6 separate regions of the Homo sapiens genome follow, and all the other regions are reported to be linked to region 1. The links are microRNA targets in miRTarBase. Many come from high-throughput screens and were not tested one by one. Region 1 holds a microRNA gene; each other region holds the end of a gene's coding sequence.

Region 1 (4,642 bases):
CCTGCCTTGAGTGGCCTTGTCCCGTCCTTTATACAGAAGGGATATCGAGACAGAGTCTCGCTCTGTCACCCAGGTTGGAGCACAGTGGTGCAATCATGGCTCACTGCAGGCTCAAAGTGCGAGGCTCAAGCGATCCTCCCGCCTTAGCCTCCCAAGTAGCTGGGATTACAGGCAGACACGCCATGCCCGGCTCATTTTCAAATTTTGTGTAGAGATGGGGTCTCACTGTTGTTCAAACTGGTCTCAAACTCCTGGCCTCAAGCAATTCTCCCACTTCAGCCTCCCCAAGTGCTGGGATTACAGGCGTGAGCCACCACACCCGGCCCACTTATAATCTTGATAAATACACTTGATATATTCTTTTTCAGCATGACATGTATCAACCAGTGATATAACTTGATAAAATCATAAAGAAACAACAAGGGCTCACCAAGTCCTACCTTGGCATGATTTAAATACATATGCTTTCAGCCAGGCACGGTGGCTCACACCTATAATCCCAGCACGTTGGGAGGGTGAGGTGGGAGGATCACCTGAGGTCGAAAGTTTGAGACCAGCCTGGCCCACATGGTGAAACCCCATCTTTACTAAAAAAAAAAAAAAAAAAAAAAAAAAAAAAATAGCCAGGCGTGGTGGCCGAAGCCTGTAGTCCCAGCTACTCGGGAGGCTGAGGCAGGAGAATCGCCTGAACCCAGAAGCGGAGGTTGCAGTGAGCTGAGATCACGCCACTGCACTCTAGCCTAGGCGACAGAGTGAGACTGTCTCAAAAACATAAATAAACACAAATGCTTTCTAAAGTGGCTTTAATATCACACAAGCGGCTCTTTGGTCTACAGTGAGAGAAAACAGAGGGAGCCAGGAAAGGCTCCCCGCTGGCCTCTGGAGTCCAGGAGCCTTAGGAAGGCTGAAAGCCAGCCCTGACCAGCAGGCTTAGTTGTCCTGAGAAGAGCCAGTGAGGCCACCTGGTCCAGTTCACCAGGTTTCCCAGGGAAGCACAGGCATCTCTGGGTCCCCGAGCACAGTGCCAGGGAAGACACCCCCAATCCCCATCTGAACAGGCCGAGGGCAGCATGGGAAAGGCTCAGACTGCAGGTTCATCCCGCAGGATGGTAAGGACACGTGCTCCTCCCTCGCAGAGCAGGCTGTGCACAGCCCGGCACAGGGCCAGCCAGGGCGGCCCCTGCGGCTGTGCAGCGCTTACCAGGGGGAGGAGTTCAGCCATCAGGACCTGGGGGCAGGGCAGGGCAGGGCCAAGGTCTCAGGGGCACCTAGGCGGGGGGCAATCCTGGGACAGGCTTCGAGGCCCCCATGCTTCAGCCCTCCTCCCTCCTTCTGAGGCTCCAGGCTCCCTCCTGCCGTCCCAGCCCCGTCTGACCCATGCACTTCCCAACCCACACACACAGACCCCAGGCTTGCCCCCATCCTCCTGGGTCCTGGGGGGTGGAGCAGTCAAGCCCCTACCCTCGGGTCCTCAAGGCTGCGGACCTCTGTTGCACCCCCACCTCCTCTTCCAGAAGCACCTTTTCCAAGTGGATCTGCTGGTCCAGCACAGCCACTCGCAGCTTGAGGGCCGCCAGGGTCTGCAGCTCCTGGGTGCTGGAGTAGACAAGCAGCTGGGGGCTCCATGCAGGCTCCGCTCTACCCCCACAGGACGGCGAGGCTCCGGGGGGCCTCCCCACAGGACATGGTCTTGGTGGCTGTTCCGCCACCGCTGTGTGCACAGGAGAATGTGGCCTTTGGGGTAGCAGCCGAACCCAGGGCCCCGCTTTTCCTGTGTGCCTGGCCCTCCCGCATCTGCACCACCTGCCCTGCCTTTAGGAGAAAGGTGGGCTTTCAGGACAGCCCCATGCAAGATGGTGTGTCTTGGGCCTGGACTTGCTGGCAGGGAGTCCTCTGTGGGGTGGCCCTCTGCCTGCCTAATTTCTTTACTGTGTTTATGCATGACTTTTATGAGATTGTCTTTCCTTTTGACAAATGATGTATCTTCACTCTTAAAACTTCAAGCAATTAGAAAATACAAAGGAGGAAACAAGTTCTATAAATAACCACCTCACGCAATCCCAGGCGAGTCACCTCCCAGGAGCTGATTCTCACGAGCTACTTTCTCTTTTTTTTTTTTTTTGGAGACGGAGTCTCACTCTGTCACCCAGGCTGGAGTGCAGTGGTGCAATCTCAGCTCACTGCAATCTCTGCCTTCTGGATTCAAGCAATTCTTGTGCCTCAGCCTCCCAAGTAGCTGGGATTACAGGTGTGCGCCATCATACCCAGTTAATTTTTGTATTTTTAGTAGAGATGGGCTTTCGTCATGTCGGCCAGGCTGGTCTTGAACTCCTGACCTCAAATGATCCGCCTGCCTTGGCCTCCCAAAGTGCTGGGATTACAGGCGTGAGCCACTGTGCCCGGCCTCACACGCTACTTTTTCTTTTTCTGAGACGGCATCTCACTCTGTCGCCCAGGCTGGAATGCAGTGGCGCAATCTCAGCTCACTGCAAGCTCCTCCTCCTGGGTTCACGCCATTCTCCTGCCTCAGCCTCCCAAGTAGCTGGGACTACAGGCGCCCACCACCACGCCTGGCTACTTTTTTATATTTTTAGTAGAGACAGGGTTTCACCGTGTTAGCCAGGATGGTCTTGATCTCCTGACCTCATGATCCACCCGCCTTGGCCTCCCAAAGCGCTGGGATTACAGGCGTGAGCCACCGCGCCCGGCCCTCACATGCTAGTTTTTCAACAACTGGGTGAATAAGCAACTGCTCAGAGCAATGAGGTTCTGTGTGCGGGGAGCAGCGAGGTGGGAGAGCTGCCCTGAGGAGGAGAGGAAGGCTGACTGCTCCCATAGGACGACTGGTGAGGACCCAGCACACTGGGGAGTGGCGTGGGAGGGGTGGAGGGGCCCACCAACTTGCATCTGGTCCCTGGGCTGCTCACCCTTCCCTGAGGCGCAGACAAGCCTGGCTAAAGCACCCTGTCCCCGGCCCAGACCTCAGTGCAGGTGGCAGGGTGGGGGCGGGGTCTCACCTGCACGCAGCTCCTGCAGCCTGTGCAGACACTGGCCCACCATGGCCTGCAGCCCCTCCAGCGTGAGCAGGCAGCGGTACTCCTGCATCCAGTCCATGGGGGCTGCAGAAGAGTCAGGGAGAGCAGGTGGGGCCCGTGGCAGTCTGGAAACCCTCCCTGCACTGGCCCTCCACACTCCTCCTGATACAGACCCAGGACCCACTGACCTGCCGAGAGCTCCTCCCTCATGCGCAGTCTCAGCAGCGAGCAGGCCTTCCGCAGGCGCCCCGCCTCCGCCTCCACCTCCACAGCACTGAGCCTGGGCTGGGGCCCGCCTGACTGGATATGGGTCAGGAAAACTTCCCTGCAGCCAAAGCCCCTCTGCTCCCACCAAGAACGGGGCCTGGGGAGTGGCCCTGGCCATCCCACGCCAGCCCCTCCTGGGGCTGCTCTGCAAACCTGCCAGGTTCAGAGCTAGAGGCCCCCAGGGCTCCCACAAGCCCAGCAAGGATACAGCTGTCTGCATGTTCTGGAGGAACTGGGTTTTGGCAGCGGCGGCATCCGTGGAATCACTGGTCTGTGTGGAACTGAGCTGGGCCCACAGGCTGGGGTGCACACGTGGGGTGCACAGAGGAACCACAGAGGGACACGGTTATTCCAGCCAGTAAGCTGGGCCTTGGGAGGTAGGCAAGGGCCAGGGTGGGGACCCCAGGCTGGGCGTCTGGCTCTGCTGAATGCCAGGAGGGGCCTCCAGAGGCCGCAGGGAACCAAGAGGACACTGACTAGGACAAGGGGACAAAGCTGACCGGCTGGCAGATTTTTAACATCGACAGTGATCCCACTCAGCAAAGAGGACAAAGAGACCCACTGGAAAGTATCTCGAACCTGTCCCCGAGCTGGTGATGCCTCCCGGTTCTCCCCTACCCCCGTCCAGCCAAAGACCTCAGCCTCACCTCGAGTTCTGGGAAGCTGCTTTCCTGAATGCCGCAGGCAGCCGCAGCAGGTGCCTGTCGGAGAAGCCCGTGTTCAGAGGAGCATCGCCTTGCTCTGGGGTCTACAAGTCCCACTTCCTGCTCAGAGCCCAATCAGGGATGAGGCTTCTTGCCCCTCTCCCACACCCGACCCCACCAAGGATGAGCCCCCTTGGATAGGGCTTCCAGAGTGGCCATAGGAGAAGCATCGTCCAGTGCTGCCCCATTAGAGAGAAGAGGGGGCCCTGTGAGCGGGGCCCTGTGAGCAGATCCCACGCCCTCCAGAGCCCATCTGGAGCCTCTGGCCTGGGCAAATAAGGGGACAGCCACAGAGAAGAGAGGAGGACAGGCTCCAGTACTTCCCTGACCTGATGGTGCCAACCTGGACACCACCACACAGCTGCTTCATTCTGCCAGCTTCTGAGCATGAGCCTCAGGGGTATGCCACAGGGCTCGATGCCCTGCCTTCCCTGTCACCCCAAATCCCAGGCTCCTTGCTAGCCAGGGTCTGAGGAGGCAGAGACAGAAGTCCCTCCAGTGAGGGTCCGGGAAACCTACCCCTTCTCCTTGAGTGTGAAGGCTTCTGGGGCCTGAGGAGCAGCGGATGGGGCCATTTGCTGGTCCCTGAGGCCCGCCCCAGGCCTGGGGGTTCGGGCTCCCATCCCAACACGGGTC
Region 2 (4,969 bases), not on the chromosome of region 1:
ATACAAAGCATACTGTATTTTTGAAAATATACATCAATCAAAATTTCTTATGAATACTTATCCTTGAGTAAAATAATTTCATATACCAACAAGGATGTTTCCATTTCTGTAAAGTCATGTAAGTGATCCTCAATCAGTCCAAGAACTTGGCTTTTTATCCAGGTTATATTTTAATATCTGGAGTTTTAATCCAGCATACAAAAATCACCAGTATACATCTATTAAGTTAACTGCAGTATTATTTCACCATCACCATTTACATGTACTTTTCAGGTATCAGAGACTTAGTGCTTTAAGTAGCAAATTACCTAAATTATGAACACATATTTCCAAAAACAAAATCAAGCTCATAATTACCAAGTATATATGTACAGTGCAGATTAAAAAAAAACTGAATTAGCACATATTTCTCTTTTCTAAAGCTCCTATGAAGAACTTACACTCTTCTGCACTACCAATCTATTCTGTACATTTAAAATAACATTTGTTTTGATTTAAAGTCAAAAATATAAAGGCTTAAATTTTTGTAAGACTAACCCATAAAAAAGGACTCCAATTTTAAACCAATCCCTGAAACCAAAGCATTCAAATATTTGAATATTAGTTCAATATTTCTACATAGCACGATAAGATTTTCAGTTACTTCAAGTTTTGTCTTTATTTTTAATAATGGGAATGGCCTACAATTACAATAAACAATTAATTCAGTTATTTTAGGGGCCTTACCATATCATTAACCTATTCACACAACAAAAATATTTTTATGAAAGTTAATATATCCTTTCCTGATTAAGTGTGCTAAAACAGAAATAGAGGTAGAATCCCATTTTTCTTAAGTACCACTCTACAAGCCAGTTCCACACAATTAAGGTATTTTTGCAATCTAAAATAGTGATGCTAATACTGCTTCAGTAAGCTAGATTTACTAATTTAAGAATCCTAAGAAATTATATATGTGGCTTTCAGACATCCATGTTAAACTATCAACTTGTGGAATTTGTGGAACACTTACCCTACTTGAGTGACCATAAAGCAAACAACTCTAAAATTTTTTCATATCAGTTTTCTTTATAAGTGATTATATGATATTTCACCATTTCTAACAGGAAAAAATGAGACTTACTTGGCAGTGTGCATGGGCTGCTGGAAACTACAATCAGAGTGTAAAGACAAATCTCAAAAATGTTTGTAGATAACTCAGAATAATAACCCAGAATATAACCTATCAGGAACTATGGAATTCCATTTTAGTCTTCAAATAATAAACTCCACTTAGCAGGGATTGTGAGGTTGCTCTTAAAATTATATATTTACAGAACATAGTGGCCTCAGCACAAAATAGCTCCCTCTAGACATCACTACTCTCCACTCTTCAAAAAAAAAGTATATACATTCATTTAAAAAAAAACACCCAAAATATCACCAGTACATTTTATAAAATTAAATCCAAATTTTATTAAGGATTTCAGGTTACATACTTCAAATTTCTAGAATGGAATGGAATCATTTTGGAACTGGAAAAATGGCATAAACACTGACGTCCCTTAAAACTTCAATTTTATAAAGAAAATTCTTCTGCAAACCACATCCCCTTTATGTAACAAGACTAGGTATTATCTACACCTTCACTTTGGCAATAGCTATTTCCTAAAGAATGAAAAAGATGATTTTGCTACTTCAGTTCATTAAAAATGGGATTCTATCTTTGAAGTTCAGAAAAAGCTGCATTTCGATGAACTATGGTTAAAAAAAAAAAGCACATAGTGTCTAATCAAAGCAAAGGAAATCATTTTGAAAATAAAGAAAAAAAGCTATTATAATTGGTTAAGGATTTCCAGTAGTAAGTTAAAATCTCAGGAGAGGAATGGATAGCACTACAAACAATGTGTTCACATTCCAAGACCTTAACACTAACTTCTCAGAAAGGAAGTTTTCATTACCTCTAAAAATCAATTCAATGTAATTTTATTAAGAGCAGGAAATCTAGACCTTCCTCTAATGACAATCCAATAATCCACCCTCACTGTCAAAAAAAAGTTCAACCCCAAAATTAACAGTAATTAGCCTGAGGTATTGTAAATGTGGCTCTACAGTCTGAAATTTAATGGCATCTTTTGTCAAAAATAGTCTTATTTCCACTTTAAGTCTCATGACTACAATACTATAGTGCTATCCCTGTAGTATTTACAATACAGTCATCAAAAATATCTGAAAACAAATCTTGGACCTTGTGAAATAGTGCATCCCTCCACTTCTATAAAAATAGGAGCCACACAAAGATCTAAAAAGAGTGCTGACTGCCCAGATCCAGAACAGAGGTACTTAACACCTTTGTTTTCCAGTTTAGTTATCAAAGCGTGGTGTGAACAAAATGCTTAGTGTCACACTGGCATTACAAATAGGCCCAAAATTTTGAGCTTTTAACAAGATTGAGAAACATTATATGAGATTTAACTCAATATGCCTTAACACATCCATGAGGTAGTTAGGTAAACAGTACTACCCATTTTAATTACACAGTAAACAGAAGCACGGGTAAGTGACATACTCATACTTTAAGCAATAAGAATTAGAAGAAACCATAGAAGCTTGGGGCCTTCTCTCTAGCTCTAACCCAAAGAAAATGAATTTTTTTTTTTTTTTTTAAAAGAAAACAGCATCAATCACTTAAGATTTTCTTCCTCTTTTTTTTTTTTTTTTACACTTGCTTATTAGTATAGCATCTCGTTCCAAAGCTGGTACCTTTTCTTCAACAATGTGTTAAAAACTGAGTATAACCCTTAATTCAAGGTAGGCCTCTACTTCTACCTGAATTGGTACAAAATTAAGACATTATCTTGTAAGAACTAAAATTGTATTTGAAATTTTTATTTTAGCTGCAAAAACAAAAACAAGCAAACAAACAACAAATAACTTGAAAATAGGCTTGTCAAATGATGTAAATTCATCCTTTCCAGGGAAGCAGAAGGTAGACCCTACCACAAAGAAAAGATGCTTAGTTAATGGAGGTTAAATTTAAAAATACAGTTAAATTCAGGCTAACTTCTGAAAATCCCGTTTTATTCACCTCACTGTGGTACCAGTAACTATACTGAGTCAGGTTACTTTACAGTTAACTATGTCACCTAAAACACAATAATCCATTAACACTCTAATAACAGTTATTGGGTGTGGTCATACTGGAAATTCTTAACCATATAGTTGTCTTGCCAATTTTTTTTTTAAACAATAAATTGTCTTAGTATAAGTCACTGCATTTCTGTAACAAAGTAATGAAAGGCACAGCTAATCCAAGCGGACTTAACCCTATTCAACAACCAGCTGAAAAAATACTTTGGTTCTTCAAGGAAAAAATTACAAAAAAAAAAAAAAGGTATTTCCTTTAACAGTTGTTAATTTTCATAGCTGTACTCCAAGAGCTACATAAAAATATTCCAGAAGAACCAAATTATGTAGCAATGAATGAACATGCGTGACAGAATTTGTGCATTCAACATAGCTGGCAGAAAAACTAGTTAAAATGCTAGGTAGAACAAATTGGTCTTTAAAATATCAGTTTCCTGTCCTTTAAAAAAAAATTACCTAGTCTACCAAGAAAATACAAAAACATAAGGCTGTAAGTAAATAAGAGTTGTGTTTAGGCTATTACAGTGCAGGTTATCCTCAAGGCCACATACATCCTGCTTCACTGCTGCTTGCACTCTGCTGGGTTTTGATCCTTCTGTTAAAGGAAAACAACAAGTCAATCTATCTTCTTCTACCTGCTTCAGTGAATTTCTCAATAGTAATTACTGCCTTAATTATAACAGTAGCTCACTGTTGTCAAAAGAAATGGTATAGGACAATGGTGGTAAATTATTTATTTTATTAGCAAGTCACTGAAATGCTAAAATCAAGCTCAAACTTTACACTGTAGAATTAACTCCATAAAATGTGACACACGCTAAACCATAATCTTAAAAAAATAAAGTTACCAAGCAATTTATGTTAGTTATATTACCAATCAGCTTTGTTTTTGCTAATCCTAATATAACAAATTCTCAGGAATAATAGACTAGGACTCTCAGGGACTGAGTAAGAGTAGTTGGAAGGATCTAACAAACTGCACTGCTCCCCAGTTCCCGAACACTCCTACAACCAGATCTTTTAAAAACCTTTATTTTCTAATGCTTAAAAACTGTTACAAATCGTCCCATTAAAATAGAATCCTAGGGTTCACTGTACCTGAAACTATAAAAAGCACGAAGTCCAAACAAAAAACAATGTTTTTTAGAAAAACGTCCACTGAAATTATGTGTACTGTTCACAATGCCAGTGGGACTGAAAAAACAAAGTTATCCAGTCAATAGGCTTTATTTATTAAAGACTTTAACGGAGAGAAACTTGATATTCAAAAACACCAACTCTTACTTTAGCTATCTTAAATTTAATAGAAAGCAGCACTAATTTTGCTCACCTTTGGGTCATAGTCTGGATCATTTTCCTCATCTCCTTCTTCTTCCCCTTCCTATATTAAAGTTCAAAATGCATCCATGAAGTATGTACATAGTAGGTAAACTGGCTCATAATGTAGGGAAAATTTAATACAAGTTACTCTACGGATCAACAGATTTTCATGATTACAGACTTTGATGATAATACAATTTAATTTGAAAGCTTCTAATATGAAAAATTTCCCAACACAACTTGAGACATCCAGACAGCTTTTATTGAAAATAGTTACTGCAGCCAACGTTGGAAAAGTTTACTGCAGCTTTTGACTTCTTCAAAGAGCTGATAACCCTGCAGCAGAACAAAATTATTTGAAATAAAAAAATGTTGCTGAGTTTTGCAATTTATTTATTGAAACCTTATACATACATTGTTTGGCTGTAGAATTCTAAAATCATGTTTTCCAAAATGTTTTTATCCCAAATCACAGAATGATTATAGCAAAGGAATACATAAGTCATTCAATTTGCTTCTCAAT
Region 3 (4,969 bases), not on the chromosome of region 1:
TGGGTTCCAGCGATTCTCCTGCCTCAGCCTCCTGAGTAGCTGGGATTACAGGTGTGTGCCACCACGCCCAGCAAATTTTTGTATTTTTAGTAGAGACGGGGTTTCACCATGTTGGCCAGGCTGATCTCGCACTCCTAACCTGAGCCGATCTACCTGTCTTGGCCTCCCCAAAGTGCTGGGATTACAGACAGGAGCCACCGCGCCTGGCCAGATCCTGTTTTATGTATGTTGCTTCTCTGTGATTTTTTTTCTCCTCTTATAATATCATGGATATTTTTCTGTGTCAGCTTATACCCTTGTTTCCTCTTTTCTTCATCACTATCCACAGATTCTGATATACCTACCTGAAGGATAGTCCTCATCCAGCTCCACCTGATCATCTCCTTTTAACCTCGCTCCTCGGTTGAGCATTACAGTTGATTCTTACTCTGTACAGTCTCACTAGCCAAGGCAATCTTGTTGGACATTTGATTGTTCGAATGTGTGTGTGCATTTTTTCCTCTACATTTCCTCCTTCCTTTGCCCTTCCCTGAGACTGTGGCATTTTTCCTTGGGGAGGGGAGGTGTGGAGTGTGCTCTTCTGGTTGAGAATCATTGAGGAAGGACATCTTGCTTCTGTGATTTCAGATTTCACTGCAATGTTGTTACCTCTTGAAACATGTTCGCTTGAACCGTTTGCTGTTGGGTGGATGGGGTTTGGGAGTTGGGCGGGGGAATGACCTGTTTGAAAATAATTTTGGGTGCTAATTTCTGGGACCCATGTTCATTTTCTGTCTCTCTCTTTCGTTTTTCTATCAGGACCAGTATGTTTTCCTCAATCAGTGTGTTTTGGATATTGTCAGATCCCAGAAAGACTCAAAAGTAGATCTTATCTACCAGAACACAACTGCAATGACAATCTATGAAAACCTTGCGCCCGTGACCACATTTGGAAAGACCAATGGTTACATCGCCTAATTCCAAAGGAATAACCTTTCTGGAGTGAACCAGACCGTCGCACCCACAGCGAAGGCACATGCCCCGATGTCGACATGTTTTTATATGTCTAATATCTTAATTCTTTGTTCTGTTTTGTGAGAACTAATTTTGAGGGCATGAAGCTGCATATGATAGATGACAAATTGGGGCTGTCGGGGGCTGTGGATGGGTGGGGAGCAAATCATCTGCATTCCTGATGACCAATGGGATGAGGTCACTTTTTTTTTTTTTCCCCCTTGAGGATTGTGGAAAACCAGGAAAAGGGAGCTATGATTTTTTTTTCCAAAACAATTTCTTTTTTAAAAAAGACTATTTTATATGATTCACATGCTAAAGCCAGGATTGTGTTGGGTTGAATATATTTTAAGTATCAGAGGTCTATTTTTACCTACTGTGTCTTGGAATCTAGCCGATGGAAAATACCTAATTGTGGATGATGATTGCGCAGGGAGGGGTACGTGGCACCTCTTCCGAATGGGTTTTCTATTTGAACATGTGCCTTTTCTGAATTATGCTTCCACAGGCAAAACTCAGTAGAGATCTATATTTTTGTACTGAATCTCATAATTGGAATATACGGAATATTTAAACAGTAGCTTAGCATCAGAGGTTTGCTTCCTCAGTAACATTTCTGTTCTCATTTGATCAGGGGAGGCCTCTTTGCCCCGACTCCGCTTCCCCTGCCCCCTGTACATTTGTGCTCCATTTTTTCTTCCCTTTTCCCTCCCAGTTTTCTCCAAAGACTCTTCTGTTGGCAACATTTTCAACCCATTGGTTGGGTGAGAATGGCGACTCAAATATCACCTTGAGAATTTCTGTGGGTGGGAATGGGAGAAGCAGAGGAATCCTACAGTGGCAGAAATCCTTTTCTTGTCCCTGTATTATCCTTTTTCTCATGTCTGTATTTGGTATGAAGGATTATTTAAAGGTGCAATATGTGAATTAGTGATTCATGATGTTCTAGGTTTTTAGTAACGTTTTACTCAGGTTGGCATTTTATGTGTCTGTGTCTGTATGTGTGTGTGTATGTTCAGAAGCGTGGCAATCTGTGAACACTTCAGCGTGAATTCAGTGTCAGATTAATCCCTCCTTCCCCAAAGTCCACTGGCTTTCGTCTCTCTCTGCCGTGACACATATCGGAATCTACTGTGTATATATATATATATATATATATATATATATATATATATATATATATACACTAAGCTCTCAAAAACAGTCATTCCTATGAATTGAGGTGTACAAAGTTTGAATTTGTATCAAAGATGTAATTATTATTTTTAAAACCTTTTCACTATACTGCTGCTGTAATTACTTTGATTTTTAAAATGTAGATTAATTTTTTTTTTTTTGCTTCAGGTGTGTATCCACCAAGAATTTCAAATTTATGTGGATTTATTTTATTGGTACATAATCTGTAAACTTCTTAAGGCATTAACATGAAAAGATTTTTTCTTTTTATTTTATATTGTGGCTCAGGTTATATTTTGAAGATGTTTTGAGTTTATCCTCCAATAGGCAATGAAGTTGACAAGGTTTTATGAAGGAATAACCAAGTCCCTGGAGTCCTGTGGCTGTTGCCACAGTAATGTGTCCTGCTGTAAACAGGACAGGTGTGTCCTGTTGAGAATGTGAGCGGGCTCTTCCAGCCTCCTGGTCCCTCCTGACTCTGCCACGCCCCTCACCTCACTGGCACTTCGATAACTGACTGGACGTGTTAATGGGTCTTTTAGGGTTCTAAAGGGTGAACCACACTTTTAAAGCCCCGGCTGTGGTTCGGAGGGTTAGTGCTGTATGCCTTTTATTTCCCTTTCCCTTTGAGGTACTGAAAGGATGAAAAGGTGGTGTCATGTTTTGGGGAGAATCTTACTTCTCAAATGGAAATTGCACTTTTTGCTGAATCCTTTGCATTTTTTTGGTAGTAAGCAGTTCATTGAGTATCAGGTCCTCAAAGGAATGAGTTGGCCCGGCTAGGGTGGGCCCTCTTGACCTAACTTCAGAGGGGGCCTTGGCTCAGTAGGTGTGAATCAGGGAAGCCACATTGTCCTCAGGGTGCTGTATGAAGCTGGGTGTGGGCGGATTCCTCCCACACCTTCACACTGGCCTGCCTCCAACTCATACAGATCTCGGAGCGGTCGGTACTTCATTCATAGGTCCCTGTTCAGGCAGCAGTTCTGTGGGCTGTGGCCCTCTCCCCTCCAATATGTCCGAAACCATTGTGATGGGTGGCAAATCCCAGGGAGCTCCTAAGCCCTGCTCTGCCCACATCACTGCCACAGAGAAGTCAGAGGAAGGGACTTGTTGCTAAAAAATCCTTTAAAAGGTTAAATACTTTAAAAGATTAAAGCAACATAACTGTAAACATATTGTATAAAAATGAAAAACACAGGAACCCTCTTCCCTTCCGCCTGGTGTGGGCTTGGGAAATGGGCAAGCGGCCCCAGCAATCATGGGAGGAACTCTTGCGGGGGAGCGGTCTGGGATTCCAAATGGGCAGGTCACACGAAGGTCACGATGCTTCTCTGCATCCTGAAAAGGGCTGGGGACAGGGCCAGTGGGGGTGGTAAGGGTATTTATAGCACAGTGCTTGAAAAGGGAAGATTAATGTGTAAATATAAAGGACACACAGGCTGGGGGTTGGTCAGAGGCAAGAGGAGGGTGCCTCTGAGCTTCAACCCCTCCCAGGAACAATGAGCTCAAATTGGAAGAGTCCAGTGGAATCGGGGGGATGGTGTGAGCACCCCTGTTCAGTCTTTGACAATTGCATACAGAAAAGCAGCTGGTATGGGTTTGGGTGTCAATGAAAGGGCCAAAGACTGGTGGCCAGCTGGTTTGGGGGATTTGGGCCATTGATAGCATCTCCCAGGAACAACGACTTTTTGCCTCCAAAGTTGGATCTAGTGATGATCAGCACCAGCAGGAAATGACATTTGGTGTCTGCCCACTGCAGCCATACTGTGACCTCCAGCCAGACTTCCGCCTAATTGACTCCACTGGATTTGTGCTCTGTTGAGTCAGAGGCTCCCGGGGGTTGGGGATCGAGGGGCGGGGGTCAGCTATGCAGCCCATCACGTGTGTTTTTCATCTGGGATGAAAAAGCCTGGTTCTCTTTTGAAATGCTTGATTGTACTTATTGAGCTAAACAAGTCTTGGTGACTGTTGTTGATTTGCCTCAAAAGTTTTAAGTCCTGGGTTTTCAGACTACTGTGTAGCAGCTGTGTGTTTAACATACTGTAGCTTTTTCTCCCTTGGGGGCACATACAAATAGGATGTGTTGATGTGGACTCTAAACTGTAATTTTCCTGTAACTATTTTGGAATGATGCATATTTCTAATGTTTGTTATACTTGTACAGAGTATTGCTGTTGGTTGCTTTTTTTTTTTTTAAGGAAAAAATGGCCTGAAAACATTTTTTTAAAGACTTACAAATACCAAATATAAAAAAATGTCAATGCATTATGCCTTTGCTTCTTTCTTTCTTCTTTTTTCCTTCTTACAATGTGCCAAGCAGTTTACTGGCCTGCATTTTACTTGGGCATCCTTAACAAAAACACATTTCTCTTTGGGATTTCCGGATTGTTTTAGTTTTCTAGGGCTGTTGTAACAAGTACCACCAACTGGTGGTTTAAACAGCAGAGATTTACTTCCTACAATTTTGGTGGCTGAAATCCAGATGTGGGCAGGGTTGGTTTCCTGTGAGGCCTTTTTTTTTTTTCTTTTTTTGAGACAGAGTCTCACTCTGTTGCTCAGAGTGGAGTGCAGAGGCGTGATCTCAGCTCACTGCAACCTCTGCCTCCTGGGTTCAAGCAGTTCTCCTGCCCCAGCCTTCAGGCGCCTCTCTTCGTAGCTTGCAGATGGCTGTCTTCTCCCCATGCCTCCACATGGTCTTCCCTCTGCTTGTCTGTGTCCTAATCTCCTTCTTTTTTTTTTTTTTTTGAGATGGAGCCTTGTTCTGTCGCCCAGGCTGGAGTGCAGTGGCATGATCTTGGCT
Region 4 (4,969 bases), not on the chromosome of region 1:
AGTTATGAAACTGGCAAAATCATAATTGTTGAAAATCAAATATATAGCCACTTCTAAATCTTTGCCTAAAAAAAAACTTGGTGGGATTTTCTTTTTTTTTTTTTAGAAAAACATGTCAAATGTTTGTTTCTTCTTTTCCTGTACTGGATGAATTCTTAGTTATGTTGTAGGAAAAATAATTAAACATAAATCATAAATAAATTTACTGAAATAAGGCATCATTGCCAAATGACATAATTTCACACACCCCAAACTATTTTTAGAATGGGTGAAGACATGAGTAAGATTATCACAACAATGATAGCCAATTAGTTTTTATCTGAGCATGAATTATTTGTCATCATACAAAATTTTTGTTTACAGTATGCTGGGTCTCCCACAAAGCCAGGCCATTTTGGAAGGAGACTTGTCTCTAGTAGAACAATAATTATCTCCAGAGTTTTTATGAATGAAGGTAGACAGTGGTAGACAAAACAATGCCTGTAAGTTATGTGGGTTTATCTGAATATCAGTTTCTGAGAATATCTTCTAAATCCAAACATCAGTAGCTTTTTAGGTGCTAGATGTCTTGAGACTCACACCCAGACGAACACCGTTTTACGCACATTAACAATTTTGTCTGGAATTTCAAGGGCTTTGTTATTTTATTCCTTTTTATAGACACAAGGTATCCTTGAACCCAAGATTAAGATCTACTATTAAGGATAATCAAACTTTGATTATTGGTTACCTTCTTTGTTCAGAACAATAAAGAAGTGTAAAGGATTCATGATAAGGCAAGGAATAGCCTCTGTTTCCATTGATAAGCTTCTCCTTTTAGGGATTCTAGTTGCATCACCATCTTTTGGTAATAACTGTATATACTGTTAGAAAAGTTCCTCAGCAATAGGGAATGTGTGTCTGTCTGTAGATGGGATTTCTAACCTATTTAATAATATTTCACCTCTATTAATCAGCTATGTCAATAATGAGATTAATGACCAAGCAAGTTCAGATCAGAGACAGGAAGGGATTTTCCTCTTCTATGTCTGTGTATTCTCTTACTTCCAGTCAGTCATTTCATTTGTATGCTGATGCTATCCTTTAAATTTCAATATGCTTTCTTCTGGGACTAATGTTACAAACTTAACCTAATAAATAAAGAAATTAATCACAAGATTAAAAAAATACTCCTTACAAAAAAGAGAACTAGGGCATCATTCCAGAATCCAAAAATAATTCACAAATGTATGAATCAATGTTTTCCTAGAAATGGTGATCTTAATTTATATAAATGATATCTGAAAAGTTAATGACTATTCTAGGATAAACAAGACTTACAGTTTAAGGGTTGGCTCTCAGTTAATATTCTTGTTATAAAATGCTAGATAGCAATGAAATATGGAAGAAACCAGCATCTATATTTTAAGATTAAGTTGATAGGGTCCAAATACATATACTATGAAGAAAGTTATAATCACAAAGTGGTTTACTGTTTGAGCAATCGAGTGTTTTTAGCTATAGAAATATAGTAGATTCAGGTCTCTTAACTCATGTCTCAGATTTGTTTCATAGAATTGATCTAAACTTAAATCAGCTGTCTACATGAGATACAAATGTCTTCTCTGCCCACAGGAGACCTAAGGAATGCAGTACAAATTAAATAAGCAAAAGTTTTGAGCACCCAAATAAGGGGTAGGATGCTCATAAGCAGCAAGTAGAGGTTACACTAAAGAACCGGATGATCTTTTGAATCCACAATGTGTCGTTCAGAGCTCGAGCGGCAATTGATGAAAAACAGGCAATACCAAACATCACGTATGTCCAAGTCTGGAAGTCCATTCTCTCCCCCAGCTTGGCTAACATATTCACACTTTCAACTGTGTTTTTACAACTAGAATATTCTTATCCCCCACAGCCCCCACTGAAAAAAGCGAAGGATGAAACCTAAGCACTAGGGGACATTGATTTTTTTCTCTTTTTATTGTGAGTTCTAACAGAACTTTTGTTAAACATAGAGCACGTGAACACATGACAGTTTCCTTCATTTCTTCTCACATGGAGCTGATAGAGGAATACTTGGGAGGAATGTTTCTAAAGCTATAGATAGCTTCTTTTGCATTTATTTCATTTTTTAAATATGACAAAGCATTAGAGGAAAAAGAAGTTTCATAAGTTGTGAGAATATCAAATATTACCCATCAATCCCTGAATCATGCTATTCAAAGTGCTTAAATCTACACTAAAAATAGAACAAAAAATGCACTCCCAATGCAGCTAAATTAACACCTATGGATGCCTAAAATATGACTGTGGTCTGATTACTTCCTCTACATTTATTCCACACTTCCATCGTGCACTGAAAAGAAAAATTAAAAAACAAAGAGATAAATCAGGCCATTGCCACGTTTACAGTTTTCTGAGCACTGGGGGAGTTTGGAATCCAGTCCAGTGAGGTACACTGCCACCAGTCCCTGACAGCTGTCCATAGTACAAAGTAAACAATGGCCTTCTCAGATTCTGAAAATAACCCAATGTGCAAAGCTGACCTTAAAGTTTTATGTGTCCTTGCAGCTTCAGTTCTGGTTTGTGAAAATGTGACACAGATCCAAGGGGAGAGCACGGGAATAAAGAACAGATTATAGAGAAGGACACAGGCGAGTTGTCAGGGAAATAAACAATTTTTAAGCAAATAATAATCAATGCACATCCCAAGGCTCCTTTACCTTGTCACACAGATACTGAGACCTTTTCATTGTTACAAATGCTTACACTTCTTCTTCATATATTTGCAAATTAACCTCACCCTCCCCAATGAACCCTATTGCAGTTTACACGTGTGTGTGTGTGTGTGTGTGTGTGTGGCCACCTTACTATTGTGACCAAAAGTGTAGAATTGTTTTCTCACTAAATGGTGGTAGGAATAAACCAAACGTACGATAGTCACTACACAGGCCCACAGATGATGACTGGGATGGGAGTTCCTACAATGAATCACTAAATTAATGTATAAGTTCTATTATCAGTGTTTTTATCACATTGATTTTTTTTAAAAACTAAAAGCTACATAGGTAATATTTCCTTTTAACAACTCTGCCCTCTGCAGATTCCTTTGTGATTGATTTTGCATCAACCTTCACATGAATATGAATTAGCTGCTTATGTCATTGATTTCAAACATAAAGCTAAATGGTAAGGGATGAACTTCTTGGGAGCATCAGCTTTCTGTTTTCTGAAAGATAGAATTACATAGCTAAAATAAAGCAAATTCTTTATACAGTAAAATTAATTATTTTAAATACTTTCTGATCTAATTTAAAAACTATTTTGTATAAATAATGTTTATTTTGAAAATACTGATCTCTGTTGGTATTCATATGTTTGACCTCCTGAGTTCTTAAACACCTTGATATTAATAAGTGTTGCTTATGTCCACAAACTGAAACCACTTAATTCTTAATGTAGTGTTGAAAATTAAATACAAGGGAGTTAACATTTAATTACAAGGGGGCCGCACAATAAGTTTCACAGATTTTCTCTGACTCTTTAGAAAATAACATTTTGTATAATACAAGGTGACAAAACATATTTGATGACACATCCTGTCCTTCCCTTTGGTTTGGAAGCCTTCAGTGTAAATTTCATTTTGACTTGCGTTGATTCACTCTTTTGAATTAACTTGCCTGGCATTTGCACAGAATCTCATTTGCAGAGAAATTATAGAGGGAAAAGAGGAAGTAGAAGATTAAACAAAAACAGCCACAAACACATTCATGCCTTTCCAGGAAGTGATCAAATATAGGGCTTGATTTTTTTTTTTTTTTGTTTTTGTTTTTTGTTTTTTTTTCTTTTTTTGTTTTGTTTTGTTGTTTTTATATATATTTATATTTATATATATATGTATATATATATAAGGGTACATCAACTCATTTAAAAAACGGAAATAACACTCTTCCCCAATTTCATGCCCTTGATCTTCTCTTCTTAGTACTCTGTAGTGGTCACTGTGAAGTGATTAGCACACCTTTGGGTCTAGAGTGTATTCTGAAGAGCAGTGACTTGAATGTTAAGACAGTTAGACCCGCCCCCACCCCTGCACAGAGTTTACACATCATGCCGCCATTAGAAAGGTAGAGGTGGGGAATGAGGTGGGACAAGGAAGAGATTCAGGGCTCTGACTGGTGGGGCCCTCCTATGAACAAGTGTTCTTCTCATCTTTTTTTTTTTTTTTTTTTTTTCCCCCGAATGGCAATGCTGGCATTTGTTGCACTGTTCTCTGAAGGCCGACGTGGCCCAGTTGATGCTAGGCAGAACCCGAGAAAGAATCCGGTGCTCCTTGTCCCATCGGATAGATTTGTCCAAGCACCCCAAGGAAATGTTAAAAGCAAAGTAAAATTTTAAAAAAGGAAATAAAATAAAAACCCATTCTAAAACTAAACTAATGAAGCAAAAAAAGGGTTTTCTATCTACACATCAGTCTCTTCTTTAAAAAAAATGTAAATTTACAAATTCCAACGACATATAAAACAAAGTCAAAAAATGTAATGGTAAAAGACATGGTAAAACAGGAGGACACTGATGCTACAAAGAAATTCCAAAAAACATATGTACAAGACCCTGTTTTTCCTCGTGTTCTAGAGATTCTAATGCATGTTTTTTAACAGCAGCAGTCGAGGATTTAGTTCCAGGCACTGGACTGCAGATTCCACTCAACCTCCCAGGGACGGGATGTCCCTTGCTTTTCTGTCACCATATCACACTGGATATACTGGTCTCCCTTGGCAACAGCGGCAGGATGGCACTGTTTGTGTGGGCCTCATCTGGATTCTGCTCCCTGCTCGATTTTGTCTGTGGCCGCTGCCCGTTGATGAGTGTCATAGGGATGTTACAGTAGGTATGCTGATTGCCTATGGAGGTAAGAGGCAGGGTGCCGGTAGGAGGTACGTCGTACTCATAGCTTCGGTAGTAGTGTTTCTGACGCATTTGTGAA
Region 5 (4,969 bases), not on the chromosome of region 1:
GCACTTCTTCAGCAGCATGCGAGAAATCCCCGGCAGAAGATGTCAACAAGCTCTCTCACCTCCTGCTTATGAGTTTTTCCAGGGTTCAAGTTCCACTGCTTAACAGCTGTTTGATCTTGTGCCATTAATTTAGCCAAGTGAAACCTCAGTGTTCTCACCTTTAAAAGGGGTGGAAATGGCACACATAGTAAAAGTGGTCTGTGGATTAAATTAAAATGTAAAGTAAATGTAAAATTCATGACTCGTAGTAGGCATGTTGTAAGAGGTAGTATCTTGTTGTCATAAAGAAAAAAACAAAACTAAAAATCCTTCAAAAATTGGCTCTCAATTTGATTAAATCAATACTTTTTGCAAGTAAGGCCAGAAAGAATTTTTTTTTTTTTTTTGACATGGAGTCTCCCTCTGTTGCCAGGCTGGAGTGCAGTGGCACGATCTCGGCTCACTGCATCAGGTTCAAGCGATTCTCCTGCTTCAGCCTCCTGAGTAGCTGGGACTACAGGCATGCTACCATGCCCAGCTAATTTTTGTATTTTTAGTAGAGACGGGGTTTCACCATGTTGGCCAGGATAGTCTTGATATCCTGACCTCGTGATCTGCCCACCTCTACCTCCCAAAGTGTTGGGATTACAGGCATGAGCCACTGCACCTGGCCCAGAAACAATTTTTTTTTTCTATTCTTCTAACAGAGAAAATTCTGAATGAGTGGACAACGAGGCTTATATTAATTTGAAATTTAGCCACTGTAATGTTGCTCTCCACTTTCAACAAGAGGGTTCTGCATGTAGTTATACCTGAAACTTAAAGATGGGTGTATGCAGCATGCCATAAATAAAAATCAATTCATTATTTTTATTTAAAAACATTTGGAATGAATTTAGTGTCTGGATTGACAATGTAGAGCTATACATTTTCTTGTACGTATGTGGAGATGGCATTAGTAATGGAGATATTTTATATATACAGGTTATTTAGAACCTGAAAGATTAACTTTACAAATTCAGATGCATTTGAATTTGATGGTTAAGGTAATATGAGAAGTAGAAGAGAGACAGGGGGTGGGGGGGAGAAAGAGGTGTTGGAATTTGTAATTATGAAAGAAGGTAACACTGTGTTTCCTTCTGTCTTATAGCCTGAAGAATAAGTAGTGAAAGCATCAATCAAGACATAAGAACAAAACATTAGCATTTCTCTGCCGTGGAGAATTGCTTATCAACCACCAGAGGAGGCTTCTTTCTTGAACAATAAACATTTCTTATAAGGATTCACAGATTCACATACGACTGATCTTGATTTTTGGAAATGAATGAGGTTTCTTTTTTCTTTTTCCTTTTTTTAATTTTGGGGTAAGTTATGATATTTGGATGGATTTTTAAATTCTTTCCTGATAACATATTTAGCACATGTTCTAAATTATAATCCTATAGCAAACAGTTGGAGCATTATTCAAACTGAAAGTGGAAAAATTTAAATTTCCAATTTATTCTAGATTTCCTCAGAGCATAATTATTCTGTTAAATCCTCAATGAGTGTGATGTAAACCACCTCTATCCAGAAATATACATTCTTTTCTCATCATGTTGGACACAGTTGAGGGTGACATGCACAGAACTGGAACAGATCACTATTAGTGGAAAATACCAAATGGACAAATAAATACCAGTCGTTTTCTCCGTTCTCCAAGCACAGGAGCCAGGTTTACCATCTGAACAATGAAGACGAAGGGAGTAAATAAAGGAAGAATTCTCATCTTTTTTCCTGATCATTCAAAGAACAGTTTCTCAAGGTTAAGCCAAGTCCTCCTTGCAAGTTGCCAAATAATAGCTTAGGAAAAGAATTAGTCTGCCTGCATGATGATCTTCTTAGGCAAAAACGTCTTCACAGCCCTTGACCTTGGTGAATTTTTTTCCCCAAAAGCATCCAAAAGAAGAATTATAAACCCCAGAATGAGATGGAAATAAACAAGTATTTTTTTTTATGATGTTTGGCCTGAACTGTGGGCTTTAATTGGGGGATACTGATCGTTTGGAAAGAAGTGAGAAAATTCTGAAGAAATGGCGGCCTTGGGCTAGGCGGGGTCCCCTATTTCTTCTGTTTCTCACTGAAGTCCTACTGCTGAGCCAAGACTCAGTCACTCTGGAAAGAGCATGACCGATAAAGAAAACAGTTCCTTTCTGATGGGGAGCGTCTGAGTGCAGATCATGAGGCTCTTTCTCTAGGTTTAATTCTTTTCCATGGTGACCGGACTTGGTGTCTTGTAGCCTGGTTACGAAGTGGGACGTTGAGCTTCTACTGACGATGCCCTGCATGGACCAGCTGGGATCTGGCTGGGGCTGCCCTGTGTCCCTAACGACCATAGGCAATCCATCTTCTTGTGTCAGCAATTTCTGGACACCCACTGTTTTCCACCAAGAGCTGAGGTGGCAACAACTCAGTGAGCAATAAACAAAATGACACAGAAATGCACAGTGTTGTTATGAAGGAGCCTGTTTACCTGTGTTCAAAATCTGGCACCATTCCCTTGAGCAGGGCCCGCTCAGGAGGGACCAGGTCTGCCAGTTTCTGTGCCTGCAGAGAGACGAAGCCCCACGAGCCACACCCTACTCTACAAGAGGAAAGGGGGTTGGATGGGAAGAATCTATTTTGCTGTTTTGGAAAGCACACAGCCGACCTACAAACCTCCTGTGATGGTGTTTCTTCGGATGTGTAAAATAAGGCTTTATTTGTCAATTCCGCTGTAAAATAAGCATTGTCCGAGTAAAAACAGCAGCAACAACAAAACACTGTTTCAGTTTGGGTTTAGTGAGTGAGCTTATGCCCTAAAGTGCTGTGTGTGTGTGTGTGTGTGTGTGTGTGTGTGTATTTAAAATAACCTAATATAGAAAAGTCTATGAACATAGATTTCTTTTACTTTACAGAGAGGCTATGCCAAACCCTTTATAGATAATCTTCCGGCCATAATAATCAGATTATTTCAGAATTCCTCATCTAAATACCATTGCTCCTTGGCAACCTGTCAAATGCAAGTGAATACCCTGCCAGAGGTTTTGTGTGTTTGTTTGTTTTCAAATTTCTTTATTTTTGCCCATGCAGATAGTGGAAATTATCATTCTAGTGTACCCTGGAGATGACATATTTAGTTTTAGGCAGGAAGGGGCTGCTAATGTTGTTTATATTTTGGGAATTCTGGAATGGAAAGATTCCTACTTGGGAAGCTAGCTGTTTGTGGTTGTCTTTTCTGTTTGGTTTGCTGTGGTTGTGTTTGTTCAGCTAAGTCATATCTTACCTTCCCATTTTTTTATGAGTGGATGGGAGTGGGATGGAAGGTAAATGTTTTCAAATAACCAAATCAATTCTGAAGGAGAGGAAAGAGACCCACACAGACCCAGGTGTGTCCCTGTCTTACGTCCAGTCCACCCGGAGCTGCTGACACGTGGTCCCAGCAGAGACTCCGGGCCAGCTGAGAACATGAGTCAAGTGATTTTCTGTAAAATGTTAATTAAAAGGACCTAGGAAAGAACCCATATATTTGAAAGAGTGAAGCTATTCAAATTATCAATATTTAAAGTATTTTTACTGTTCCAGAGTTTTTATAATAATGTTAACTAAACTAACCAAATACTGCCCATTTAAAGTTTTGCTGCAGTGAGGGAAAAATTATTCAAAATTAACATAACACACAAGCTTAATGGACTCCTTATACTATATCAGAGTAAAATTATTTGTATTTAAAAGGTTAGTGGTTACGTGGTTGAAATTGTCTTCTTAAGAAGATAAAACACTCCTATAGTCTTGGTCATGCAGTTAATTTACTTTGCAAAAAGTTTTTCTCCGTCAGTACAGAGGTAAGCTTCAGGCTAGCACCTGTGCCAGAGGCCACAAACGCCACGGTAGTGAAACCCAAATTAATGAGTCTTCATTAAATTTAGTCTCCAAGCCCAGTGAACTAATAAATATAGTCATAAAGTAATCTGCTAAGTAAAGGGGACTACAGTGATTCCTTTGGCTGATAAAGGTAGTAATAAAACTCTCATCCGCAATTGCTTGACTACAAAGACAAATAGGATTTGTGTTTCACTTGCCTGTTAGACGACATATATAAGCATAAATTGGAACTGAAAGAGTCTTTACACTTTTTTATTGACATGAGTTTATTAGGTCAACCAGACCAAAGGATGAAAAATTTAAGATACATGAAAAATACTAAAACTCCCATAGGAAAATTTGAGCCTTCTGGTTGGGGCTGGGGGTGGAGTGTGGGGGCATTCTAACTCTTCCAAAGCTGATATTTTGAGTCGGAAATTTCTGACAAGTCAGTGTGAACACAGAATATTAAAGCCCCACTAAGAAAATTACCTTTTTAAACTGCCAGGTAATAAAATAACTATACTCTCTCTATATTCCATCCAAACAAAATATTCATTGTTCACTTGACCCACTTATATGAGGAACTGTTTTTCTTTTGTGACCAGAATAAGGAGGGTCCAATCAACATATTATTGTGGAGATAGCCTTTTTTTTTTTTTTCTGGCTTCTACCTAATTTATTTATAATAAAGACAAGCTAGGCTACCTCATAGGATTCTGGTGTGGATTCGCTAATTAATAAATATCAAGTGCTTAAAAATATGGATCTCTGTATAAATCCTGCCTTAATTTGTTTTCTAGTTTAAGATGTGCATGTCAAATCAACTGTCTGAATATTTGATTGTAATATTCATGTTTGTAAATTTGGCTTTAAATTTAAGATATAAAAATTTTGATGTGAAATGGAATCCTAGCATGGGTTGAGAGCATCTAACCCAAGACTGGCAGATATAGCACCTAGGGAAACAAAAAGCACCTGGAAACCAAACCAAAATGTTTTTAGAAGGCATTTTTGACTGGGCGCAGTGGCTCACGCCTGTAATCCCCGTACTTTGGGAGGCTGAGGCTGGCAGATCTCTTTAGGTCAGGAGTTCAAGACTAGCATG
Region 6 (4,969 bases), not on the chromosome of region 1:
AATAAAAACCTGTCCAACCTGTGGCAACTATTCCTTCTCTTTCTCATCCCCCTCCTCTAAAACACTCCATTTAGTGTCTCCTCTTTGGGACCCACCCTTCATTTCCTTCCTATAACTCTCGCCTCCCCCTAATCACAGGTGGCAGGCAGGAAGGGGAAGAGCCAAAGGAAGGCCAAGGGTGCTGGGCTGACTCCCCCAGCTTCAGGAGTCACCAGTGGGGCCTAGGTAGGTTTGGAGCCCAGGATCAAAGCATGGCATGCGGCCTCTTCACGGGGGCGCTGCTATCCAGGCCTGTCTGGGACACAAGGTCAGAAATGTACATCAGGCAAGGCTCTGCCAGCCCCAGGTGCTTGGAAGAGTCCTAAGAAAGGGATCTGGAGTCCCAGACCCTCCCCAGGGGAGCAAAGCAGGACTGTCCAGAGGTGCTGAGGATCAGGAAAGCACACATATGCTGGGGTAGCAGTGGTGGATGACTGAGGGTGGCTTGGGTGGTAGGGAGGGGCAGAGCAAGTCTCCAGACCACCGCTGGAAGGTGAGCAGTCAAACAGGACACCACCCAAGTCAGGCCAGGGCTGGGAACCGACCTGTAACCAAGGAGGACACTCCCCTCTTTTACTTTCTTTTTTTTTTTTGAGATAGAGTTTTGCTTTGTCGCCCAGGCTGGAGTGAAGTGATCTCGGCTCACTGCAACCTCCGCCCACCGGGTTCAAGCGATTCTCCTGCCTCAGCCTCCCGAGTAGCTGGGATTATAGGCACCTGCCAACACGCCCAGCTAATTTTTGTATTTTTAGTAGAGACGGGGTTTGGTCAACAGGTGGTCTTGAACTCCTGACCTCAGGTGATCCACCGGCCTCAGCCTCCCAAAGTGCTAGGATTACGGGTGTGAGCCACCACGCCCGGTCTACTCTATGTTTTTTCCAGCTCTATTCAGATATAACTCACAACATAAAATTCACCCATTTAAAATATGCAACTCAACGGTTTTTACTATATTCACAAGGTTGTGTAAAACCGTCACAATTTTAGAACATTTTCATCACCCCAAAAAGAAACCCCATACCCATTAGCAGTCACTCCCTATTTCCCTCCAACCTCCCCAGCCCCAATCAACCACTAATCTATTTTCTATCTATATGGATTTGTCTATTCTTAACATCCATATAAATTCTTGACATATCATATATGTTATGGTCTTTTGTGACTGCTTCTTTCACTTAGCATATAAATATATATAATTTGTTTTAGACAGGATCTTGCTCTGACATCCAGGATTATAGCTCACTGCAGCCTCCAACTCCTGGGCTCAAGTGATTCTCCCATCTCAGCCTCTTGAGCAGCTGGGACTACAGGTGCATGCCACCATGTCCAGCTGATTTTTAAATTTTTTGTAGAGACCAGTTCTTACTATGTTGCCCAGGCTGGTCTTGAACTCCTGGCTTCAAGCTATCCTCCCAAAGGACTGAGATTATAGTTGTGAGTTGCTGCTCTCAGCCAACATACTTTCAAGGTTCATCCATGTCGTAGCATGAATCGGAACTTCATTCATTTTTATTGCCAAGTAATATTCCATTCTATGGAATATTCATTACATTCTATAGAACATTTCCATTTGTCATCGGACACTCAGGCTGTTTCCACTCCTGAGCTACTACGAATACTACTACTAAGCATTCATATACCAGTTTTTGTGTGAACGTTAAGTTTCCAATTATCTTGGGTATATACGTAAGGATATATATAAGGAGGTCCCCAAAGGCCTGTCAGAGGCCCTTTCAGCTTTGCCCATTGGATGAGGTTTCCCAGGACGGGAGGAGGAGGACACTCCTCCTGTCACCCCTCCCTTTGCCAGCAGCTGAGGTCTCCTCCTGCCCAATCCCACCCAATCTCCTTTCTCAGATGAGGACCCAGCATCCTAGTTTCCAGGACTAGTCGACAGGAAACACGCGAACTGCTAGGAGGGCAGATGGACAGGGTCTCACCCCCAAAGATCAAATGGTCTAGGAGCATTTCACACACACAAGAATTTGAATGAACTGAAAACTTCCTGTTTCATTAGATTAAAAACCTGTACTTTGCTCAGCCAATAACTGGGACACAGTATCAAGAGATTTTCATGCCATTTCTGGGTGTGGAAGATGGCCTGGGAAATGAAGTTGAAACCCCCAAATTCAGGAAGTTACTTGGGGGCAGCAGCAGCCCTCCCAGAGGTGACTGGCCAAGGCCACTAAAACCTTGCTCTCTACTCTGGGCAGCCTCTCTGAACTTCTGGGAGGAGCTCTTCAGATCTAGCTTAGCTCAGGCTCCAGAGATACAGGTGCCCCTCAATCTCGGGGGGCCTTAGGAACTAATCAATGCAAAAACAGGATCTGAGGCTGGAGCAACAGGAAGAAAAGATACCCCAGAACAGTGGTCAGTGCTGTGGGAAAGCACGCTGGGCTGGAGAAAGGCCACAGGGCAGACTCCCCTCTGAAGGGCCTGGGAACCCGAGGCCCTCCTTCTCTACAGGCCTGCCCTGCCCACCCCTGCATGTGTTCTTCCCACTACCTTAGCCCTCTTGGGTGTTTCCCTAGGAAAGTTAATATGGGTGACAAAGTTATGAGACCTTAGTGGCCTCAACCAGTGTAGTTACATAATACCCACACAGGCACACTTCTGCGTTCCTGGGAAACAAGGACATGTGAGGTGAAACTGCCTGTGAGTCCACTGTTACTAGGCCACTGGGAACACCCACTTGTGCACAAGCAACACAGGGGCCTTCCCTTTGGCGGGGGTGACTCAGCCCCTACCTGTGGAGGGAAATATGACCAAACCCACCAGACCCCAACTCTCACAAGCCAGGTCACCTCGAGCAAGGGCAGAGAAATACCTGGGGGAACCCAGCTGAGTCTCAAAATATTTGTAAGTTTTGTCTGCTTACAGACTCCAGTGCTGGGCAAAAACCATTTGATGGAAGGGAGGTCTGCCCGTTCTGATGTAACCATGGCCACTACACCAAGTGACTCTTCGTAAAACTTGAAGCTACGTTATCCTCAAATGGTGCTGAGATATGACAGTAAGGGGTGTGAGTGGAACACTTTCTGAAAGGCCTGTCTCCCTGGCAACAGACCTGCACACTGATTGCTGCTGTGGAAACTGACACCCCAGCCTCATCACCCAGTGTCTCCCTGGAGACTGAGCTACACCAAGCTCTGGTACCTACATCTCCAATCTGGCAGCCCCCTGCCCTGCCTCTTTACAGCCCCTTCTCACACCAACAGGAAGGACTTGGAAAGATAGACTCTATAGATAGATTTTTAAACTTACAAAAATAAGAGACGCCCCACAAAAAACTCCAAATCACCAATACATTTATTTGCGGGAGATGAGGTCAAATCTTACCATGAACTTTAAAACTGGGTAGGACTAGAGACACTGATCTGCCCAACCTCTGGGTATTCACAACTGCACAGGTAACCAGATCCTGTACGCGAGGCATCACCATTAAACAGATGAGCATTAGATGAGGAGGACACATTCTGAGTAGTTGCATGATTTCCCATTCAGAGGCAGGTGCTGCCCTCATATCAGAAAAGTAGTGTTGAGAAAAACACAGGCAGAGCCTGGCCATTTGCCTCCTAGCATAGGCCTAGACATGATGGTGGCCACGTGCCAGGGGACCACACCCTATGTACAAAGCAGGAGAATGATGCTCCCAGCTGAGCTGCAGGATGGGCGCTGGGCTGACTGGAGGGGTAGACGGGGTGGGGTCTGACCCCATTAGCCTTTCCCCATCCAACCTGGGCCCCCATAAGCCATTCTCTGGCCCTCTGCACAAGACAGACTCAGCAAATCTGCGAGGTATGGGGATTCTGCCAACTCCCCACCTCGCCTCACCTTCCCTAGGTCTGCCGGGTGACCCAATCCACTGGGTGCAGCCCCACCCCCGCTCAACCCCACATCTGGACAGACACATGGCAAATATGGAACTGAAGCCCGGCTGGGCTGGAGCACATCTGGTTGTTGTTGGGTTGGAGTCGTCTTGCAGGTGTCCCAAGGTGGTCAGGCCTCACCCACGGTGGCCAGGTTGAGACCGTGTTTTTTAGATGATTCAGGTTACTCCAGGGCAAAGCATGATCCTGATGACACCCGGCGGAAAAGCAGGCTGGAGCCTCGGAAGAGCTGGCCCTGGACCAGAAGGAAAAGTAAGGTGAGTGAAAGGGAGGCCACGCTTCCTTGTCCCTCCGAGAGGAAGGCCAGTGTCAGGCAAAGAAGGGTCCAGGAGCTCAAAGACCCAGCTCCGGGGTGGACGGCCTCGGCCTACATCCCTGGAGGGCAGAATCTGCCTGTGTTGAAGCAGAAGGGAGCGGTTCATTTCCTGCCCAGGGGTGTCTTTGGGGCTACTCTGTAGGAGAGCCCTAGAGAGGAGGCTCATTGCCCCTCTTGCTTCAGAGCCCAAGTGGTCTAGGACTCTTTCAGTGCTCATAGGGAGGACGAGACACACTCACGCTGACCAGGGCCACTGGGAAGAACTGCGGCTCTCCTCCCTGCTTCCCTCCCATCTGTCCTCTTCTCAGCCTCGAGGCCACTCAGAGTTCTGGCTCCCTCCGGGCCACTGCCCCATTTCACTGCGAGGCAAATCAAGGCCAGGAAAAGGCAAGGTTCTGCCCTCGGCCAAAGCCTGGACCCCTGACTGCTGGGCCCAAGAGCTCCAGCTACGGAGAGGTAGCTTCGGTACAGAACACGAGAACCCAAGGTTGGTACTGCTGCCAGTTCCCCACGTGGCCCAGCCCCACCCACAGGCTCTCCTGGGCCCAGGAATGTCCTGCAGGAGGGAGGAGTCGGTTTCCAATGCCAGCCGCCCTAACAACCCAGGAACTCAGCTCAACTGGTTACAGACCTCGAATTTTCAGCCCATGTTACTTGAAGGAGAAGCAGTTCTTGGGCTTTACCACCTGCCACCTGGGCCAGAGTTCTCTTATCCTTATCCTAA

What was found. Region 1 holds the annotated microRNA hsa-miR-6768-5p (CACACAGGAAAAGCGGGGCCCUG, at 1,756-1,778, opposite strand). A microRNA usually pairs through its seed, bases 2 to 8, with sites in the 3' UTR of a target mRNA and lowers its output. Matches are read on the target gene's strand: a 7mer-m8 pairs with bases 2 to 8, a 7mer-A1 pairs with bases 2 to 7 and ends in A, and an 8mer does both.
Region 2: miRTarBase lists NAP1L1 as a target of hsa-miR-6768-5p. Seed matches in the 3' UTR shown: 7mer-A1 at 2,514-2,520.
Region 3: the mRNA of PTPRJ is a reported target of hsa-miR-6768-5p. Seed matches in the 3' UTR shown: 7mer-A1 at 2,125-2,131 and 7mer-A1 at 4,183-4,189.
Region 4: the mRNA of IL1RAPL1 is a reported target of hsa-miR-6768-5p. The part of its 3' UTR that is shown has no 7-base or 8-base seed match.
Region 5: the mRNA of ZMAT4 is a reported target of hsa-miR-6768-5p. Seed matches in the 3' UTR shown: 7mer-m8 at 2,335-2,341 and 7mer-m8 at 2,491-2,497.
Region 6: the mRNA of MTCH1 is a reported target of hsa-miR-6768-5p. Seed matches in the 3' UTR shown: 7mer-m8 at 3,587-3,593.

Annotation. Positions count from the first base shown.
Region 1 is chr16:2,461,108-2,465,749 of GRCh38, reverse strand. It overlaps MIR6768 (microRNA 6768), which reads right to left and starts at 1,783; the gene lies at 1,712-1,783. TEDC2 (tubulin epsilon and delta complex 2) reads right to left here. Exons shown (of 10, transcript NM_025108.3): 4 at 4,526-4,642; 5 at 3,950-4,003; 6 at 3,511-3,601; 7 at 3,224-3,335; 8 at 3,018-3,119; 9 at 1,521-1,711; 10 at 787-1,228. The coding sequence ends at 1,082. TEDC2-AS1 (TEDC2 antisense RNA 1) reads left to right here. Exons shown (of 1, transcript NR_135198.1): 1 at 1-800.
Region 2 is chr12:76,044,744-76,049,712 of GRCh38, forward strand. It overlaps NAP1L1 (nucleosome assembly protein 1 like 1), which reads right to left. Exons shown (of 15, transcript NM_004537.7): 14 at 4,457-4,507; 15 at 1-3,721. The coding sequence ends at 3,686. Among named protein-coding and RNA genes, the nearest start is that of PHLDA1-DT, 15 kb to the left of the region's middle.
Region 3 is chr11:48,166,406-48,171,374 of GRCh38, forward strand. PTPRJ (protein tyrosine phosphatase receptor type J) reads left to right here. Exons shown (of 25, transcript NM_002843.4): 25 at 799-4,434. The coding sequence ends at 957. Among named protein-coding and RNA genes, the nearest start is that of OR4B1, 48 kb to the right of the region's middle.
Region 4 is chrX:29,955,577-29,960,545 of GRCh38, reverse strand. It overlaps IL1RAPL1 (interleukin 1 receptor accessory protein like 1), which reads right to left. Exons shown (of 11, transcript NM_014271.4): 11 at 3,828-4,969. The coding sequence ends at 4,726. Among named protein-coding and RNA genes, the nearest start is that of MAGEB2, 260 kb to the left of the region's middle.
Region 5 is chr8:40,528,399-40,533,367 of GRCh38, reverse strand. It overlaps ZMAT4 (zinc finger matrin-type 4), which reads left to right. Exons shown (of 7, transcript NM_024645.3): 7 at 1,130-2,778. The coding sequence ends at 1,145. Among named protein-coding and RNA genes, the nearest start is that of SIRLNT, 190 kb to the right of the region's middle.
Region 6 is chr6:36,964,811-36,969,779 of GRCh38, forward strand. MTCH1 (mitochondrial carrier 1) reads right to left here. Exons shown (of 12, transcript NM_001271641.2): 12 at 3,331-4,164. The coding sequence ends at 4,093. It overlaps PI16 (peptidase inhibitor 16), which reads left to right. Exons shown (of 7, transcript NM_153370.3): 7 at 1-27. Among named protein-coding and RNA genes, the nearest start is that of PI16, 13 kb to the left of the region's middle.